3 linked regions of the Homo sapiens genome follow. The protein of the gene in region 2 purifies or fractionates together with the protein of the main gene of each other region. This does not show direct contact. Each region holds a gene or a part of one and is shown on either strand. Other genes may lie near its edges. The genes, in order: ARFIP1, GIMAP2 and LDAF1.

Region 1 (3,654 bases), on a different chromosome or scaffold from region 2:
GTTTCTAATACTATTCTCCAATAGAAGGAATCAGTGCTCCTTGGAGAAAAGGCTGATTCTAGGCCTGTGGTAGGTAATACACAAGGTGAGCCTAGAGCATTTTGTAATACCAGAAAGTTAAAAGTGCTCAAAAACAAACAAACAAACAAAACAAGAACAAAAGTCTCACAATGACAGGAGTATGTCAAAGGAATACAGGAACCAACTAAAAGAGCTCCCAGTGGCCACAGCTGAAACAATTTGAGCAACAAAGTAATAAAGTACTACTGGATTTACCCTTAAGTATAAAATAAATATCCATGAGTCAGACTGATATAAATAAACGACTGAAAGGGGAGAATAGACAAAAAACTCTTATAGAAGATTTTTCAAAAATTTATGTAGACACTTCACCCTTAAAGAGGTAAAGCATAATTCCCCAATTCCCAATTGTGTGCTTCACAGAGAGACTTTCTTCTAAAAAGTACAATATACAAAAGGAGGGGGAAAACAGAGTAACTTTACAGTGGACAAAACTGATGAACATTATCTCAAGCCAAGTAGTCAAGGTTAATATCAATGGTACTGTCATATTAATAGTTTGTATTCTTGGCCAGGTACAGTGGCTCACGCCTGTAATCCCAACACTTTGGGAGGCTGAGGTGTGTGGATCACCTGAGGTCAGGAGTTCAAGACCAGCCTGGCCAACATGGTGAAACCTCTCTCTACTAAAAATACAAAAATTAGCCGGGCATGGTGGCATGTACCTGTAGACCCAGCTACTTGGGAGGCTGAGACAGGAAAATCGCTTGAACCCAGGAGGTGGAGGTTGCAGTGAGCCGAGATTGCGTTACTGCACTCCAGCCTGGGCAACAGAGTGAGACTCTACCTCAAAAAAAAAAAAAAAAAAAAAAAAAAAAGTCTGTATTCTTGATATGATGTGATGGGAATGGCACTTTACTTCTGTGATCTTCCTCCTAGAAACATATCACCCAGTCTAATGAGAAAAACAGCAGACAAGTCCCAACTGAGGGACAGTCTACAAAATACCTGACCAGGCAGTAATCTTCAAAACTATCAACTTGTCATCAAAAACAAGGAAATCTGAGAAACTGTCAAAATGAAAGGATACATGACCACTAAAGGTAATATGCTATCCTAGATGGGATCCTTGAACAGAAAAAAAAAAAAAAAAAAAAGACATTGGGGAAAAGTGAGGTAATCTGAATAAAATATGGACTTTAATAATTACGTGCCAATATTGGTTAATTGTGACAAATGTACTATGCTAATGTAGTATGTTTTTGTTTTTGTTTTTTTGAGATGGAGTCTCGCTCTGTCATCCAGGATGGAGTACCGTGGCATAATCTCTGCTCACTGCAACCTCCGCCTCCTGGGCTCAAGTAATCCTCCCACCTCAGCCTCCCAAGTAGCTGAGATCACAGATGGGCACCACCATGCCCAGCTAATTTTTTGTATTTTTGGTAGAGATGGGGTTTCACCATGTTGCCCAGGCTGGTCTTGAACTCCTGAGCTGAAGCAATCCACCTGCCTTGACCTCCCAAAGTGCTAGGATTACTGGCATGAGCCACTGTGCACAGCCTATCTTATAATAGGGGAAAGTGGGTATGGGAAGCTCTATTCTATCTTCACAGTAATTCTGTAAAACTAAAACCATCCAAAAATAAAAGGGTCTATTACAAAATAGTGTAAGAATACTGTGCTATATTGCTATATTTTATATAGCTACTAATAACACATTTTTTGTTTTGAGACGGAGTCTTGCTGTCGCCCAGGCTGGAGTGCAGAGGCACGATCTCGGCTCACTGCAACCTCTGCCTCCCAGGTTCAAACGATCTTCCACCTCAACCTCCCAAGTAGCTGGAATTACAGGTGCAGGTCACCACGCCCAGCTAATCTGTATATGTATATTTTTTAGTAGAGACAGGGTTTCACCATGTTGGCCAGGCTGGTCTTGAACTCCCAACCTCAAGTGATCCACCCACCTCGGCCACCCAAAGTGCTGGGATTACAGGCGTGAGCCACTGTGCCCGGCCTAATAATTTATTTCCATACACTTGAAAGAAATAGTCAAACTGAAAATTTAATTACAGGTTGATTATCCCTTTTCCAAAATGTTTGAGACTAGAAATGTTTTGGATTTCAGATTTTTTTGGCATTTGGAATATTTCCATATGCATAATGAGGTATCTTCAGGAAGGGACCCAAGTGTAAACACAAAATTCATTTACATTTCATATACACCTTATACACATAGCTTGAAGGTAATTTTATATAATACTTTTAATAATTTTTTGCATGAAACAAAGTTTGTATACACTGTACCATCCAAAAGCAAAGGTGTCACTATCTCAGCCACTCATGTGGACAGTCTGTGGTTGTTTGACATCACTATCATTCCCGTCTCTGAATTTATATGCTACGTATAACCAATCATTTCTTACACATACACATGGCATTGTATTGCCCTTTGCGGGCATGCTTGCGTAGGTGCATCTGGCTGTGTGAGGAAAAGATATATGGCAGCTGAAGGGGGCTAGGCAGGTCTTTTTTCTCTTGGAGAAACTGTTGTACACCTGCATTCTGACTTTGATTCATCACATAAAGTTGGGTGTAGAATTATGTACTTGTAGCATCATGTTGGGCTCAAAAAAGTTTTGAATTTTGCAGCATTTTGGATTTCAAGTTTTTGGATTAGGAATGTTCAAACTGTACTACCATTTTAACACTATTTTTATAAAAATTCATATTCAAATTCTTGTATTACAAAACTCGATGAACTGAAATCCTTAATACCATTAACTTGGAAATTTAATGAGTCAAATTTAGGTGTCAGGTACTGAGCTAGGTTCTAGGGATTCAAAAATGAGCCAAAAAAGAAAACAAGATATGGACCTTACCTTCATGAAGTTTATAGGCCACTGAACAGAAAGAAAATCTTACAGTCACATGAATAAATGTAAATTGCAAACTGCGGGAAATGTATGATGCTATTACCTTAATGTGGGAAGTGAGCATATTCTCTAAGGATGCAAAACTTCAGCTGAGGTGTGAAGGATGACTAGGAACTAACAAGTGAAATGAAATGAAAGTAAAGAAAGAATGGTCCAGACAGAGAGAAAAGCATGTACAAAAGCCTTGCAAAAATGGCAGGGAGCAAGGTGCATACAAAGGACTAAAGAAGGCCAGCATGGTTGAACTGGAGAGTTATGCAGAACATGGTACAAGATGAGTCTGGAGAGCTAAAGGCTGTTAAGCAGTTTTATTTTGATCCTAGAAGCAATGGAAAGCCATAAAAGCACTGGGGGAGGAAGAAGGAGAGTGATAATCCAATGTGTGTTTCAAAATAAATCACTGTGCCTTCAAGATGGGTAATGAATTAGAGAGGACAGATAAGAATGGAGGCTATTGTAAAAGTTTCAGGCAAGATGAAGTGGCAGTAGTGGAAACAGGAAGAAATAGAAAAATTCAAGAGTCATGTAGAAAGTAAGACTTTAAAAACTTGTTCAATCATTGGATCTATCAGGGAGAGGGAATTAAGGATCACTTCTAGTTTTCTGGATTTTACAATGAAAAGATAATTGTGTCATTCACTGAAAAAAGGAACAAAGAAAGAACCAACGTTGTGCAGTTTTGTAGGGAGGGAAGGGGAAA
Region 2 (4,352 bases):
GAGAAACTCAAATTGAATGTAAGTTTGATGTTAGACGGCACCGAACAGTACAACACCTGATACATGTGTCATAGTGACTTTAATAGACTATTCTTCTAGTCTCTATTAATCAGAAAGGCAACTGCCTGAGATGGCATCAATAAATCAAGATTGTGGCCGGGCGTGGTGGCTCACGCCTGTAATCCCAGCACTTTGGGAGGCTGAGGTGGGCAGATCACTTGAGGTCAGGAATTTGAGATCAGCCTGGCCAACATGGTGAAACCCTGTCTCTACTAAAAATATAAAAATTAGCCAGGCATGATGACACATGCCTGTAATCCCAGCTACTCAGGAGGCTGAGGCAGGAGAATCACTTGAACCTGAGAGGCAGAGGTTGCAGTGAGCTGAGATTGCACCAATGCACTCCAGCCTGGGCCACAGAGCCAGACTCCATTCCCTCCACCCCGCAACCAAAACAAAAGGAAATCAAGATTGCATAATAAGAGTCAGTGGCTGGGAGGAAAAAAAAAGTTGTTTCTCATTTGGATCTCAGAGTTCAGCTTGATCAATAAACAAGTTCCATACACAATGAAGCCAGAGACCTCCTATTTCTCACAGGTGAGGGTTGAGTGTGAAGGCAACTTGGTAAGGAGGAAGATCTGGGCTCTTCTTGATGTAAGAGACTGAAGACAGGGCTGTCGAGGGGCAGAGAGTGAGGAGGAGGGAGTGGGAAAGGGGAGGTCAAGATACAGAGAGAGAGACGCCCATACCATACAGATAGCAGAAACAGGTGCAAGAAGAGGAGAGAGAGAGAAAGGACAAGGGAAGAGAAGGGAATGATAGAGACAGACAGAAAGACAGAGAGAGAGACACACACACACACACACAAAGAACCTATGGAAATGTGAGAGAAGGAAGAGAAGACTGAATGGTAGGAGAAGGAGTATTTCAAAGAGATCTGAAAGATTTGTGCATAAGGGAAAAGCCTGGATGCATATTTTGGATCCTGGTGAGTATTTTAACAATTTTCGAGCCAGACTTGGTGGTTCATGCCTGTAATTCCAGCACTTTGGGAGGCTGAGGCGGGTGGATCACAAGGTCAGGAGTTTGAGACCAGCCTGACCAATATGGTGAAACCCCGTCTCTACTAAAAATACAAAAAAAAATTAGCTGGGCGTGGTGGTGTGTGCCTTTAGTCCCAGCTACTTGGGAGGCTGAGGCAGGAGAATCACTTGAACCTGGGAGGTGGAGGTTGCAGTGAGCCGAGATTGCGCCACTGCACTCCGGCCTGGGTGACAGAGAGAGACACTGTCTCAAAACAAACAAACAAACAAACAAACAAAGAAAACAAAACCCCACAATTTTCAGCTGCTGGTGGTGGTAGCTGTGGGAGTTAGAATAAGATCCTTCACCCTTGTTTATTTTGCCCCAACATCATCAGAAGAGCCAAACACACACACACACACACACACACACACACACACACACACACACACACACGTGAAGTCACCTTCTTACCCCAGTGACTGTGTTCATTTTGGTCCATTGGTGTTCCTGAGAAACAGAGAGACAAGAAACTTATTTTTCAGTTCTAAATCATGAAAAATTCTTATATTTCTTTTCTTTTCTTTTTCTTTCTTTCTTTTTTTTTTTTTTTTTTTTGAGACACAGTTTCACTCTGTCACCCAGGCTGGAGTGCAGTGGTGCGATCTCGGCTCACTGCAACCTCCACATCCTGGGTTCAAGTGATTCTCCTGCCTCAGCCTCCCGAGTAGCTGGGATTATGGGTGTGCACCACCATGCCCATCTAATTTTTGTAGTTTTAGTAGAGACAGGGTTTCACCATGTTGGCCAGGCTGGTCTCAAACTCCTGACCTCAAATGATCCACCAGCCTCGGCCTCCCAAAGTTCTGGAATTAAAAGCGTGAGCCATCACACTAGGCCAAGATCCTTATATTTCTAAACAACCATGTTTCATTTGTCTACTCATAAGGGACAAGGTGGGTGGGAAAGGAATGACTTCCTACTTTACAGAGAACTGGAATCACTTGCTGAGGGGCTGAGAAGTGGGTTTCATTTGTAAGCCTCATGCCCAGCTCTCTCTCGCTTTCTTCCTCCCGTCCTCTCACAGATCAGCCCGGCTCCCTTCTGTTTTTGTTTTGCCTGCACACTCTTCGCTTCTGTCAGCTTTCTCTGTAGGTGTGCCTTCCCTTACACCTTAGGCTCAGTCCTCCCTTTCCCTCTCTTTCTTTTCCCACCTTGCCTCCTTCCCTCCTCTACTCTCTCCAAACCTCCTCCCTCATGTTGAGTCTTTGCTGAGAGACTCAGTGAATGAAGATTATGACTCTGGGAAACCGTGCAGTCCTTTAAGCTGGAAATACACTTCACTTGATCCATTAATGGCTTGAATTTTTCTCATTCCCCAACAGCCCCTGGTTATGAAGCCCTTGCAATGTAGGAACTACTATGGAGTGAGAAATATCGGTACGTTTTCATCAGCTAGTTTCTCTTGCTTAAATCTGGCAGGCATAGACCAAGCGTACAAGCACAGAAAACTGAAAGCCACCGATTAATGCCCAAATTCTTCCCAGTTAGCACTTTTTATTGACTTTATACTATGGAAATTCTTTCTTTGCCAGTAATGTGTAAAGTAAATTACATCGGTTTCCTGTAAACTGGCTCCACTTAAGGAAAAGGCAGTCACTCTAAATTGCTTCTCTTAAAATAGGACAAATTTGTTCTAAGAAAAATGAAAATGTTTGTGCATGGCTTGGGACCTAGAAATCAACACTGCAGAACTTTTCGTAAATCTGGGCTTACCTGATTTACTGTTCAAAGAAACAGTTGGCTCCCTGTTCAGTCCTGTTGTCTTATAGCTCAGCTCCAAGAGAAAAAGAAAGTAAAACCGAGACTCCAGTCGGTCTTCTTCCTCTCTTGAATCTTCCTGAGCTTCCTGACTGCTAATGAACGCCACCACGTGCCTGTGTTTGAAATTCTCTTTCATGCCATTATGCAAAATAAACAGTTTAAATGGAAAGTTAATCAGTAGTTATTTGCTGTCATGTGGGCCAACTGTCTCTTCTTCTCAAAAGTGAAAAAAGAGTGTTTTAATGATTTCATCTGGACTGGAAAGAAAGGCATGAATGCCAAGGAAGTTGGTGGATTTCAGTCCTTCCCAGCTGGGATATGTCCCAACAGTTAGAAGTTTGTCTAGATGCAAATGGCCCCCTGAGAAGGGCTTAAACCTCATTGACACCAGCAGCAGGGATTGTTCTAAAGCAGATGCCACTGGGAGAGAAGAGGAGCCTCTGATAGGCACTGCCCAGGGGAAGAAGGGCACAGAAAGGGGAACCTGAGAGGGGACATTTTTGTCTGAGTCTGATTGTAAGGATCATTAACCATCAAAACATTTTTACATAACTCATTCATGGCTTCTAGGATTCTGGGCCTTTCTTCCCTGTCCAGCTCTGTAATTTCAGAGAACCTCCCTGTGGGGAGAAATTGTCTAGGAAATGTCTATAGTAATACTCTGGAGTGTTGGCTGGGTCAAATGGTATTTCTAGTTCAAGATGCCTGAGGAATCGCCACACTGACTTCCACAATGGTTGAACTAGTTTACGGTCCCACCAACAGTGTAAAAGTGTTCTTATTTCTCCACATCCTAGCATTTAAAACATTTCCTTTTGATTGTCTTGGAGTTTCCAGGTTTATCATAGACTCAGTTGCAAATAGTGATAATTTTCCCTCCTTGTTTCCAAAAATATCTTATGTTGCTTTCTCTTGTATAATTACAATTGCTTGCTACCTTTTCAAAAGTGAGTTAATGTGCTTTTATTATTTATTTACCTGTAGGGCACCTAATATCTTATCATTAATATTGATGTTGGTTATTGGAAATTAATTAGTTTATTTTAAAATCAGTGTGGCTATACTTTGCTTAGTCCTATTTCATTAAAGTCTTTTATCTGTGGTATAAATTTAGAAAATTTTATTTTGACGTTGACTGATATAATTCCATGTCTTTTTCCTTTTGACCTACTAATATTGCAAATTACATCACTGCGTTTCCTAACATAAGTGATATGTACATGTACATGTGCAAAGGTTTGGGTTCCTAGGAATACAGACTGTTGAGATGAAGATAAAATGGATGAAGGAAGTTTATTAGGGAATCTTCTCAGGAAATGTGCTAGAGGGAGAAGGGAAGAACCCAGGATTAGGCAGGGAGAAGTGAGACTGAGATGTAGTCACAACAAATATAGACTCTACAGGGAGTTCTAAAGTTTGGTTGGACTTTCAGAATGAAGGAGAGTGAGCAGAACTTTATAATCCCCATCGGATGCAAACTTCCTCTGGAAAAGACACTTGACTTA
Region 3 (2,875 bases), on a different chromosome or scaffold from region 2:
GTGTGTTTAAACTAGTATCTACTTTGGTTTTTTTCATTATTTGCCACCTAAACCATTCCTCCCTGATAACAAAAAACTAAGAAAGAAGCCTTTCCTTTTCTTAGTAAAGATGTAAGGAAGCTAGTTATGCTCAGGCTGGTTTGGAAGATTATGATATGGGGTAGTGAGTTTGGTGGCTCTGCAAATAAACACAGCTGCCCAGGGCCCCTACTTCTCCTGAGCTGCAGGCCCTGGAAGGTCTTGCAGTCTCCATAACCAAGCAGTGTGGTTTTGCCCCTCAGAGGCTAGCTGATCTACATAGGAGGCAGGTCAGTGTATTTGATCTAAATATTGTTTAGTTGGGTTTCATATGTAAGGGAAACTTACAGTTTTGTTTCCTTTTTCTTTTCTTTTTTAAAAATTTAAGCTGTATTATCTTTTATGTTTTAGGGCCAAAATTCCATTAAATCATGAAATAAATTATATAGCTCCTCTTCCCCCCATTCCATGCTTTCGATCATTTAATGAGGGAGTTATCTTTTTTTGAGTTATAAAGAATTCACTAATGCAGGCTGGGTACAGTGGCTTACACCTATAATCCCAGCATCTTGGGAGGCTGAGGTGGGTGGATCACTTGAGCTCAGGAGTTCAAGACCAGCCTGGCCAACATGGTGAAACCCCACCTCTACTAAAAACACAAAAATTAGCCATGCATGGTGGTGCACACCTATAATCCCAGCTACTCGGGAGGCTGAGACAGAAGAACTGCTTGAACCCAGAAGGGAGAGGTTGTGTGAACCAAGATCAAGCCACTGCACTCCAGCCTGGGTGAGAGTGAGACTCGTCTCAAAAAAAAAAAAAAAAAAAAGAATTCGCTAATGCAAGGGTTCTCAGATGAAAACCATGTTCACAATAACATGACCTATTATATGCCTTTTTCACTCACATTCTCTCACAAGGGAACAGTGCAATTTTTCAAAATATATTTGGAAGATCTGCATGACTCAATGAATTGATATTCTCCCATTGACCAATGGGTAAAGTTAGAAAATCATGCATGATAAAGATCAATTTAAAGTGTGACACAGACCTGAAGATTTCAATAAAATAGAGTAGAAAAATTTCACATTTCAGCTAACCTTTAAGAAACTATCACTTACGGAGTTTTGGTGGACTATCATAGAATATCCACAATCGTTTAAAAAAGCTTTGCCTCCCTCTCCCAACCGCATGTTAGTGATGCTAGGTCTTCTTCAAATACTCCAAACAGGACAACATAGCACAACAGAATGAATGCAGCCACACAAACGAGAAGCCGGCTGACAACTGTTAAGGCAGATATGAAAGAGATCTGTAAAATGTAAAATAATACCACTCACAAATTTCATTTTGTTTTGGAAAATATAGTTACTTTTCATTAAAATTTGTTATTTATATCAACAGGTAATATTGTTCCTTTTAAATGAATAGATATTTTTAAAATTTATGCTATGATTTCTCATAGAATAATTATTTCAGAACAAGAAACAATGAGGAAGAAAATTTTTTAAAAAGAAATAATTATTAATATTCTTTTTTTTTTTTTTTCCAGACAGAGTCTAGCTCTGTCACCCAGGCTGGAGTGCAGTGGTACAATCATAGCTCACTGCACCCCCAACCTCCCAGGCTCAGGCCATCCTCCCTCCTCAGCCTCTTGAGTAGCTGGGACCACAAGCATGCACCAGCTAATATTTAATTTGATTTAATGTAATTTATGTTATGTTTATTTTAATTTATTTTATTGTATATAGTTTTATGTCATGTTAGTTATTTATTTTATATTTCAGCTCATTTCATTTGTTTTTTGAGACAGGGTCTTGCTCTGTTGCCCAGGCTGGAGTGCAATGGTGTGATCACAGCTCACTGCAGCCTTGAACTCCTGGGCCCAAATGATCCTCCCATCTCAGCCTCCTGAGTAGCTGGGACTACAGGCACGCACCACCACAGTTGGCTAATTTTTGTATTTTTTGTAGAGATGTGGTCTTGCCATGTTGCCTAGGTTGGTCTTAAACCCCTGGCCTCAAGTGATCTTCCCTCCTTGGCCTCCCAAAGTGCTATTAATACAATTAACCACATAAATAACATCTCTTCAGATGCCTCAATAATTTTTAAGAAGGTAAAATGGGACTTGAGAACAAAAAGCTTAAGAACCTCTGCCCACGTGGAAACAATTGGTTGGCAGCAATAGGGGAAGATAAGGAGATCAAGTACAAATCCTGGATTTGTTTTTCAATTTCTTCATTGATAAGTAGGGAGTCAGATTCTGCTACTTCCTGTGGTATAATCTTTAAGAACTCACCCTGTTACAGCAGCGTTCAGAGGCAGGGAGGAATTTTATTTCAGAAGCATCACCCTCAATATGCAAAATAGGCCAATATTTCTCCTTTTACATCTTTTAAGACTGGGAGTGAGTTAGTGCCTTACGCCTATAATTCCAGTTCATTGAGAGGCCAACGGGGGAGGATTGCTTGAAGCCAGGAGTTTGAGAATGGCCTGGGCAACACAGCAAGACCCCATTTTATAAGTAAAATACAAATGAACAAACAAAAGACTAAGAGTGATCAAAGCGATTTTTGAAAAGGTGATTATGACTCCAGGGTTGATTCAATTAAGCAATCCTATAAGAGCCATCCTTGAGCAATTTTATATTATACCCACTTCACCCTTTATTTTTCAACATAGGAATAATAACAGGATAAACTTTTGGTAAGGAGTTCAAGGGCTGTTTTGTAGAAAAACAAAACTCAGGATATCAGTTCTTATAGAGCAATGGTTGGCCAAATCCAGCAAGCTGCCTGTCTTTGTAAATAAAGTTTTACTGGAACACAGCCATGCCCATGCATTTACTTCCTGGTCT

Evidence for each region.
Region 1: the proteins of GIMAP2 (region 2) and ARFIP1 purify together in Homo sapiens (affinity purification with mass spectrometry; one large-scale study listed by BioGRID and IntAct). This does not show direct contact.
Region 3: the proteins of GIMAP2 (region 2) and LDAF1 purify together in Homo sapiens (affinity purification with mass spectrometry; one large-scale study listed by BioGRID and IntAct). This does not show direct contact.

The regions. Positions count from the first base shown.
Region 1 is NC_000004.12:152,786,326-152,789,979, reverse strand, and holds part of ARFIP1 (arfaptin-1), read right to left. Parts: intron 1-3,654. UniProt on the Homo sapiens protein: Plays a role in controlling biogenesis of secretory granules at the trans-Golgi network. Mechanistically, binds ARF-GTP at the neck of a growing secretory granule precursor and forms a protective scaffold.
Region 2 is NC_000007.14:150,684,233-150,688,584, reverse strand, and holds the start of GIMAP2 (GTPase IMAP family member 2), read right to left. Parts: upstream 2,880-4,352; 5' UTR 2,800-2,879; intron 2,464-2,799; exon of another isoform or gene 1,878-2,463; intron 1,534-1,877; 5' UTR 1,526-1,533; coding exon 1,498-1,525; intron 989-1,497; exon of another isoform or gene 872-988; intron 1-871. UniProt on the Homo sapiens protein: The heterodimer formed by GIMAP2 and GIMAP7 has GTPase activity. In contrast, GIMAP2 has no GTPase activity by itself.
Region 3 is NC_000016.10:21,175,592-21,178,466, reverse strand, and holds part of LDAF1 (lipid droplet assembly factor 1), read right to left. Parts: intron 1,331-2,875; coding exon of another isoform or gene 1,309-1,330; exon of another isoform or gene 1,306-1,308; coding exon of another isoform or gene 1,233-1,305; exon of another isoform or gene 1-1,232. UniProt on the Homo sapiens protein: Plays an important role in the formation of lipid droplets (LD) which are storage organelles at the center of lipid and energy homeostasis. In association with BSCL2/seipin, defines the sites of LD formation in the endoplasmic reticulum.